2 separate regions of the Homo sapiens genome follow, and region 2 is linked to region 1. Evidence: fine-mapped expression QTL. Tissue or cell type: whole blood. Region 1 holds a variant in brackets; the other region holds the start of a gene. All regions are shown on one strand. Distances are from middle to middle.

Region 1 (5,268 bases):
TCATGTACCTTATAATCTTCATCATTTTGTTACTGATTTCTAACAGCTGATTTATGATTAAAGAGGTTAACATTTTGTGAAGGGCTGAAAATGAAATACCATTTTTTTCTCATTTTTTTACATTGGGGTTTTATTTGGAGTTTGTACAGAAGTTGTGTATTTAAAAAATAATCATGTTCTGCTTTTTTTTAAGTACATTTTCTCATCACCTTAGTTTCTTTATGTATAAAATGGGTGAGTTGAACTAGATCAATGGTTCTCAACTGGACAAGTACCAGTCAGCCCCCAGATGAAATTTGAAAATGTGTGGGAGTGTTTTTGGTTGTTATAATAGCTTAGGAGGAGGATGCTAACAGTATTTTATGGAAGAGGGACGAGGCGTTAAATGCTCTTCAATGAGTGGGACATTCCCGCACAATAGAGAATTGTCCTAGGCCGAAAGTGTTTGATTGAGAAATATGGGTTAAATATGGGATGAGGCTACAATCAAGCTTTATAACCCATGTGTATTAGTCATGGGTTCTCCAGAGAAACCAATGGGATGTTTATATAGAACAAATATGATGTATATATAGAGAGATCTATTTTAAGGTATTGGCTTTTGAGGTTATGGAGGCTGACAAGTCTGAAACCTGAAGGGCAGGCTGGCAGGCTGGAGATCCAAGGAAAAGTTGAGTTTGCAGTTTTGAGTTTGAAGGCAATGGGGAGGCAGAATTCCTCCCTCCTTGTAGGACCTGTCTCTTCTCATCAGGCCTTCAAACTGACTGGATGAGGCCCAGCCACATTACGTAGCATAATCAGCCTTCCTCAAACTCTACTTACGTAAATGTTAATCACATATGAGAAAAACACCTTCACAGCAGCAGACTGGTGTTTGGCCAAGCAACTGGACACTATAGCCTAGTCAAGTTGACGTCTAAAATTAACCATTACACCACGATTTTAAAGTCTTTAATATTGTTATTTATTCTGATGCTCTCTTCATACATTTCTATTCTTAGAACATTATTGGTCATATATGTAATTAATTGGGTGGTAAGTCCTGACATTATTTACATATTCTGGTAGGAAAATACAACTTACTCTCTAGGGCTCTGTTTTAAGTCACAGGCTTAGACTGTATGTTTTGGACTAACATTTGCTCAAGCAGTGGCCCGCTGGTCCAATTTACTTCCTTCTTCATTTGACAGACTTCAGATATTACCAGTCCTCAGTCCCATTCTGCCCCCTACATCCTCAGGGTCAGCGTCAGGGTTTCCTCATCAATTTTCATAGAAGTAGTGTGCTCCCATGCCTGATTTCAGGATGTATGCTGGACCTTTCACATGGCAGCCCTCACATTTTTTTGAAATACATTGATAGTTAATTGAGACTTAAGGAAAAAAATGTTCCTAACTCTAATGAGAATTCAAGAGGGTATGAGATGGCCAAATCACCTTGGTCTAGATAATTCCAGCAGCTGAACTTGTACTTGTTCTGTTTATATTAATGCCTAGTATTTGTATTCATTTTGATACTGACATTGAAATATCACATTCACATTGAGAAATCACATCATTTATAAGCATTTTGCAGATTGAAACTAATGTCTGGATTTATAGATACTACCAATACAGCCATAAGTCATACATGAAGCTATATGAGTTACTAATTTGTGTTTACTGAATAAATTTCTTTTTTACTCTGAATCTGATTTTAAATCTGCTAGAAAGATTGATTATCCTTCTGATAAAAATATACACCGTTCCTTTAAAAGTCTTGGGACCCAGGGATTAAAATAGGTTCCTCATTTTTTACATTTCACATGGGAAAGATTTTGAAGAACCAGACTTTATAGCTGAAATGTGAGAGCCCAGAAGACATATCACATATTGCTCATTCTGCTATTAATGTCTGTGCTTAGTGTTTGATCAGGATACTAGTAAAGGCCCTCACCATCTCTGTTCAGACATGTGGCTGCAAAGATCAAAACAAAACTACAGAACTGGCCATGCAGTTCACAAGAGGTGACCTTTGATTTCTGGTAGTAGCTTTTACTTGCTATAGATGGAACCTCTTCTGTCAACACCACTGGCACTTTCTTTCTCCTCACTTTTTCCACCCCTTATGGACACGTAATCTAGTAATCTTAGTATTGTTTGAATAAACCCCCTTTCCTTTAGTCTAAACTAGTTTGAGCTATGTTTTTGTCACTCACAACTAAAATAATGTGTTTACTGGAAAATGACTTGTTGGATTTTTTGTAATCATGCGATTCAGAAACAGTAATAGTTATGCTTGGGTTTCAAGACATAATGTCCACCCTATCCCAAAGCAAACACCGAAAGCAAACTCTCACCTGCTGACATTGTTACAAACCCTAAGACCAGAATGCAGATTGTGCTCTCCTCAGAAGATGATATTGCAGGTTATGGGCTGAATATCTGTGGCCCCCCAAAATTCCTATGTTTAATCCCTAACCCCCAATGCAATGGTATTTGGAGATGGAGCCCTTGCTAAGTAATTAGGATTAGATAAGCTCATGAGGGTGAGGACTTCGTGGTAGGATTGTTGCAGGACTTTTCCTTAGTTCAGCTAAAGATGAGGTCCTTGTCCATCCCACAGCCATGAAAATTTAGGTTCACAGGCAATTTGGAGGGTGAGTAAAACAGGGTTTTATTCGGTGAAAAGGAAGAAAAGGGAGAAACAGGGACTCTCACTAGGCTGGAGTCCCTGCTAGAGCACTTCCCACTGGCAGCTTGAATCTCAGGTTCCACACAGGAAGAGGAGAGGCCAGG[T/C]TCCTTCCCCACTGCAAACATGGTGAACTTCCCGAGGCTCCACCTCTGTGAGCAGGCTAGTTGGAATTTCTCCAAGGACCCCCTCCCACCTGACTGTCTCAGGATCAGCCAAGATAAGATGCCTAAGAATGAAATCTACCTTGTTGCCATCTTGATCTTGGACTTCCCAGCCTCCAGAACTGTGAGACATAAATCTCTACTGTTTAAACTATCACTCTATGGTGTTTTGTTATGGCAGCCCAAGCCAACTAATGTAATGTATATGCTTGTGCTTTGCTTTCCAAGACCTGTATGCTTCAAACACAGCCAACAAAACGTAGCCTGCTACTGGGTTTGGGTGACCGTATTAGTTCCTATGGCTGCCATAACAAATTACCACAATTGTCGTGGTTTAAAACAACAGAAACTTATTCTCACAATTGCAGAGCCAGAATTCCAAAATCAAGGTGTCAGCAGGGCCACACTCCCCCTGAAGACTCTAGGGAAGAATTTTTCTTTGCCTCTTTCAGCTTCTGTTGGCCACAGCAATTCCTTGGCTTGCAGCTGCATAACTCTGATCTGTCTCCATCTTTACATGCCTTTTCCTCTTCTCCAGGATGATCTCATCTCATGTTCTCTAACTTAATTACAACTGCAAAGACACTTTCTCCAAATTAGATCACACTCACAGGTTCTGGGGGTTAGGAGGTAGACGTATCTTTTTGGGGATCACCATTCAACCCACTACAGATGACTGTATAGCCTAGAAGAAAAGGGTGATAAATTATATTTAGAAACAAAACTGACAAAAGAAAATTCAGAAATGATTTATGTGGGTTTCAGGTCCATCACTCCATAGTTTGTCTTCATAAAGATTTAAGCCAGTGGAATTTCCATATGGTTGGAAAGAAAATAACTTCAAAGCTGCTGAACTGGAAACTTAATATTTTATTTTCCACTTAGTGACAGGCTAAATTACAAAGGCTTCAAAGCATACTGTGTTTACATGCAGTTCCCACTTTGCTGCAATTCAACTTTGGCAACTTCCACTTACAGTGTTCAGCCAATTAAACCTCTCTTATCAACTTAGAGTATTTACAGCAGGAAGGCAACACACAATTAAAGTTCTGTCAGTTAGTCAGCTTCCACAATTAAAGTTCTGTCAGTTAGTCAGCTTCCACATGTGCTCAAACGCTCAGCCTCAATCTGTTTCCACCATTCCTTTTGTATCTGAGGCCTTTTCCCATGGCTTATCAGTCTGTCCCCAAAGCAAGAGAATTGGGGGAAGAGTTGTTGGTCTGCTGGCATAAATGGCAGAGGAGGAAGAAATTATGGAGCCAGGCAAAGCAAAACAAAGAATCATCACAAAAGTATTTTACAATGATCATCAATAGTGCTGTATTAGTATTTGTTGAGTTAAATTATTCCATTTGATAATCACTATAAAAAAGGAAGGTGTGGAGAAATTACTAGCCTTATCTTACAGGTAATTAAAGCAAAGTTTAAAAGAGTTTAACTACCCTTCCAAGAACATACAGTTTATAAGTGGCATGTCAGAATATGTGAGATATTTTGAAAAAATATCTATGCAGGCATTTTCTAAAGGAGGTAGATTTCTGAAATAATTTAAGCAATGGAAGCATCATTTAAATAAACTTATAACTACCAAAAGGAACTAACCTAAACATCACACTGATTTAGTTGAAATTTACTAAAAATAAGTTGCTTCTTACAAGAAAAATAGAGTCAACCTTTGAATACCCTTTAAAATGGAACACTCAGTTATAAAATAACAATGGGAAGCATCTGCCTAAATATATTTGGCAAGTAAGTGCCTGAGATGGAAAAAACCAATTTTGTGAGTTGAAAATCAAATGTAACATAGTTTGTATATAAAACTGACATCAACTTAGTCCAAAGAACTTCAGATATTGTCATCTTGAAAAGCCAAAAGAGATGAGGAATCAAAGGAAGAGAGAAATCTGGGCAATTTTTGTTGGTTCATCCATGTTGGCTACAGTCAGGCAACCCAATGCCATTAAGCGCAAGGTAATTTGCCACCAAGGATCTTCTAGTTAAAAGCATCAGAAGACCCAATAACTTGATTAATAAAGCATGTGCTTTGCAAAGAGCACTTGAATAAAGACACAAAGGGCATGAAACAGATATCCCTATTCAATCCTAGAACGTGGTCAAGTGGCTCCAATTCTCTTCAACAGTGTTAAAAGACCCTCCGAAATTCTTCTCCTAGGGAAGTATTCCTCCAGCTTTGATTCCTTGAAGTAATAATTGGGAGGAATTATGAAGAGTAAAACTTGTGCTCAATATTAACATTCTATAAATGTAAATAAAATTTATAACAAGTGATTTTTGCCTCGCTTAGTAGTCTTATAGAAAGATGCACACTATGTGGGTAATCCCACTTATACACAGTTATGTACACTGTTTACTAACATTCCTCTAACATTTGTATAGGAATATAACTAGATCCACTGCATTGGTTGCACATTGT
Region 2 (5,000 bases), 250 kb before region 1:
ACAAAGACAGAAAGAGCTGAACAAATTGTGATGTATGACTAAGAGAAAAACAGAAAGACGCAGCAGAATATGATTATTTAAAAGGGAGCCTCATTGTGAAAGTTCTTTTAGCATTTACAAGATTAATTTATGATCAGAACTGCTTTAAACGCCCTACGCACATCAGGCAAGGCTATATCCATGTATACACACAGACATATGCATACACACAAATGAATATCATCATACAGACCCATAATTCACAGACACATTTTAAAATTAAATGCTACTCCAAAGAGAAATTGTTGGCATCCTGTGAGTGTGATTGTTGCCCTTGGCCTATATATATCTTATGTTCTAGAGATTAGATCACTTTACAGCCACTTCTGAGGGCGAGTGGGAATAAAATGCTGCTTCAGGAGCGTCAAAATAAAAAGAAAACATATTAAACCAAAGTTCCTATAAGTGCAATCCCAAGGATTAAATGTTCAGATAGCCCGTAAGTCTAACCCAGAGGGAGGGAGGAGCAGTTAACATTTTCTCAAAAGAAAGAAAATGTCCAAACCAATGATGAGTGGACATGAGGGACCTGAAGAGAGCATGTGATGGGAATGTGAAAACAAAAGAAGCTTCTAAAAGAAGACACCAAGGATAATATTCTCACAAAAATTCAGACCATCATTCTATATTTTCATGCATATGAATTTTGGTACATATTTCATGCATATGAAATTTGGTACATATATACATATATGTACCATGCATATACATATGCGTACATATACATATACGTATGCATACACATATGTATCTATGTACACACATACACATATGTGTACACACATATGTACATGCACACACATATGTGTACACATATGTACATGCACACACATGTGTGTACACATATGTACATGTACACATATGTGTACATGTACACATGTGTATATATACATATTCACACTTATGTAAACATATTCAATCTAAAGCTTCCTTAAGACACATACAAACAACAACCAAATGATTAGTGTTTGGCCATTGCTCATGCAGCAAAAGCTGAGTAAACACAGCTCTGGATCCTTTTCTCAGGCCACCACTCCCTAGCTGTGTGACTGACAAAGTCTATGCCTGAACACCTACATTCATGACCAGGGTGGCCTTTCCTGTCTCCTGTTGCCCAAGCATGTCTCAGGTATAAATAAGTTCCAATACTGACAGGGCACAGCAAGGGTAATTTACATGACAATAAGAAATGATTTCTATCTGAACAGTGCATACCAGAGTTGATTTCGACAGACTTATCTTTAAAAAAATACACATAACAAAAAAGGAGACAAGTAGTAGATTGGGGACCCACAGCTTGAAAGTCGTTGCTTGTGATTCTAAAACATCCCAGTAAAATTATTCACAGATAATTGTTTAAAAATATAACTGTACATACCGTTGACACTTGGACAACACAGAGAATCACGTAGTTGAAAATCCACATATAACTTTGAACTCATCAAAACCTTAACTACTAATAGCCTACTCTTGACCGGAAACCTTACTGATAACATAATAAACAGTTGATTAACACACATTTTGTGTTGTATGTATTGTATACTGTATTCTTACAATAAAGTACGCTAGAGAACAGAAAATATTATTAAGAAAACCATAAAGAGGAGAAAATACATTTATATTCATTGAGTGGAAGTGAATTATCATAAAAGTCTTTAACGTCATCCTTTTCAGGCTGAGCAGGCAGAGGAGGAGGAAGAGGGTTTGGTCTTGCTGTCTCAAGGCTGGCAAAGGTGGAAGAAAATCTGCATATAACTGGACCCAACAGTTCAAACCCGTGTTGTTCAAGGGTCATACATGTAAAATACTGTGATTTTTCCCCCTTCTATATTCAGCTTCAGGTGACCCGACACACTTTGGTATCAAAAGAGAATCTGAAATGTACAAGAACTGCGGATTTCAAATGGAAAAGGTGCATAATTGTGCTATTTGTTCCTGGGTGAGTGTGGGACGGAGACGGTGAGAGTGTTGAAATGGGATGGAGATAATGGAAGCAGTGGGGAAGGAGAGAAAATACCCTTCCTATCACACACACTCACACACTCACACTACACACTATTTCTACAGTCACAACTACCCAACTGTTATTGATCCTTTATAACTGCAATTGAGTACAGATGTAGGAAGATTGAGAGGGAACTGGGATCTGGCGCCTGGATTGCTCAAGAGAGGTCAGGGAAACCCCTCAGAACTCCTGAGACCCAGAGATTGAGGGAGGGGTTGAGGCGGAGTCTGCAATGGGGGCTGTCCAGCAGTAGCAAGCAGCGGGCCGATCCTGGTGGAGGGTTGGGAGGCTGCTGTCATTTTATGGGTCGGCAGCCAGAGTGAGAGTGTCCCTGCTGCCAGAGGACTACGGCGGGCTGGGCGCGGGGTCCCCGCCTCTCGCTCACCACACAGACCCCGCGCCTCCTCTGGCAGCCGCGGTGGTGGCGGCGGCAGAGCCTCGCCCACTCCAATCCCCACCCTCTCCATCCTTAGTCATTAAAGAACAGCAGCGCCTGGCACGTTCTTGGAGGACCCCGGGCGCAGAGGAGGAAAGGGAGCAGGCGCAGGGGGACTGGAAAGGCAGCATGCGCTCGCCAGGAGCAACCTCGGCGCCCAGGGTCTGAGGCTGCAGCCCCAGTTCGCCATTGTGAGCCGCCGCCGGGGGAGTCCGCTAGCGCAGCCGTGCCCCCGAGTCCCCGTCCGCGCAGCGATGGGGCACCTGCCCACGGGGATACACGGCGCCCGCCGCCTCCTGCCTCTGCTCTGGCTCTTTGTGCTGTTCAAGGTAGGGGAGCTCCTCCACCCCTTTTTCCCAGCGGTCCGGGCGGCAGCCGCGCTCCGGCGCCCTCGCTCTGCCGTTGGGAGCGGCGCGCCCCAGGGCACGATGGCCCAGCCGCGGGAAGCGCCTGCCGTGCAGCCTGGGCGCACGCTTTGTTGTCCTCGCGTGTGCGTGTTCCTGGTGGTCTTGAGAGGTAGGGGGCGGGGGGAAGAATAAGGGAAGTTTGCTCCCTCCGGCTTTCGCCCTTTGTGCTCTTTTATCGCTGCTGAAATCCACATCAAAGGTGGGCTTGTTGGATCGTGCTTTCTCAGGCAAAATGAGGTCACTTTCTTTTCTGGTTTCCACTGCACCCCAACGCTGCTTAACCTTTCCGCCCTCCCTCGCACAGAATGCTTTGTCTTAATTTTCCTTACTGCTGGAATTATACACTGGAGAGTGGAGGGGGACTGAGCTCCCTGGACACAAATGGACTGCCAGGGCTACGTTAGGGCAGAATTTTCTTTGAATAAGGAGTGTCAGGTAGAGAGCTTGGTAAGGATTCCTCTCCCCAACTCCTATCAACATCTTTACAATTCCTTTTAAAAAGTCTCCAGACTTTCTCCACTATATTTACAGATGATATTACCCCTAGATTTAATGGTGGAAAAATATATAATAATAAACTTTTTCGTATCTTCTTTGGAATGTGCTACCCTGAGGTTTTACTTTGAGAAAAATGAAAAGCAAAGGAGTTGCTTTTGAAAAATCAGTTTGACAACTATACTGTACATAAATTTTTTTGAAGAAATGTCAGCTAGATGTTTTCTTGGACGGCGATGTGAAGTTCTGAAGTGATTGTCTATCACTCATGTCTTCAGTGGATCTACTTTAGTTCTGTTGTTAGTCTTTTCCTCTCTCCGCAAAGCAAACTCAAGAATGTCGACAGGTGACTTGGAGCTATCCTTTCAGGACCACAGTGATACCTTCCCTAGAAATGGATGCCAGGTTAATGGATCCAAAGGTTTTCTTATTATAGAGTCACTTCTTGCTTATATGCACCATTAATTATGAATGCCTAAAAAGAATATAATGGAACAGGACCAATGGATTAAGAACAGCATTACTTTTAAATACTCCATATTTTCATTTATCTTAATGAAAAATATAAAAAAAATTCAGGGAGAAACAGCAACAGAATGCCTAAGTAAGACCTTAAAATATATTTAATATGTTTTAACATTTTTTCTTAAATTATCAATAATCATTAATTTTAAAGTATGGTAAATAATAAGCTCAGTTATATGTTTTTACTGTAGGAGGTTGTTCTTTCATACACATCATAAATGCATTAGACTTATTAGGTTGTCTATTAGTCGTTTTCTAACTATTTATCAAACTGTCACAACTATTTTACCTATGCAATAATTGTCATGAACCAAAAATTAGAAACCAAGTCACTATGCATTTTACGAGCAACAGCTAAGAGTTATATGTATGACATCTGATCCAAACCTAACGTTTAGCACAACTGCAGGTTTTTGCGTGAGTTCTTCATAATGAGATAATTCCAGAAATAAGAGAATGACTTGGTTGGGAGTGGGGGTAAGGTTTTGCAATTAAAATAAAATAAATGTGGCCATTGTTTGACTTAAAACTCGATATTGGAATGAGAAAATGCAGTTAGTGATGGTGTAATGAAAATGTTAGTGATTGTCATAGAGGTCCAGCCTGCTTCACATAATAGGTATATTCCTGAACATTGCAGGTAAATGTAAATTATGGCAAACTGCTTCCATAGTAAATACATTGGCAAAGTTTGCCATTTAAATAATAATTATTGTAGTGGGACACATAATTTTGTAAGAAAAATCATTTTCCTTTATTTTATGTGAATGTAATATTTTTGTCACCTGAATATAAACTATATCAGAGGAAAGAAGAAAAAACTGTATATATTAAATACCTTCTATGTGCTGGTTTTTTAGGCATTTTACATACGTTATTTCATTTAATCCTATTTTGCTGCAGTTGACAAGAGTTGTTCAAAAAAAATGGTAAATTGGGCACACAGTGTAATATCTTACATTTAGAGGATAGTATATTACATGGTGCGTTGGGCACATGGTATAATCTCTTTATAATTTGGAGATATTTTTGAATTAAAGGTCCTGATTAAGTGCCAGTAAAACAGATCTACTCAAGCAGGTTGTGACTGGAG

The links. PIP is the estimated chance that this variant, and not a neighbour inherited with it, causes the effect.
Region 2: PTPRO starts here. The variant in region 1 is fine-mapped to the expression of PTPRO in whole blood (TOPMed, PIP above 0.99).

The regions. Positions count from the first base shown.
Region 1 is chr12:15,572,534-15,577,801 of GRCh38, forward strand. All of the region lies in intron 19 of PTPRO (protein tyrosine phosphatase receptor type O), which reads left to right. Among named protein-coding and RNA genes, the nearest start is that of EPS8, 210 kb to the right of the region's middle. The variant T/C (reference allele first, on the strand shown) is at 2,778.
Region 2 is chr12:15,319,993-15,324,992 of GRCh38, forward strand. PTPRO (protein tyrosine phosphatase receptor type O) reads left to right here and starts at 2,516. Exons shown (of 27, transcript NM_030667.3): 1 at 2,516-2,809. The coding sequence starts at 2,735. The region is part of intron 2 of LOC105369673 (a long non-coding RNA gene); the gene reads right to left.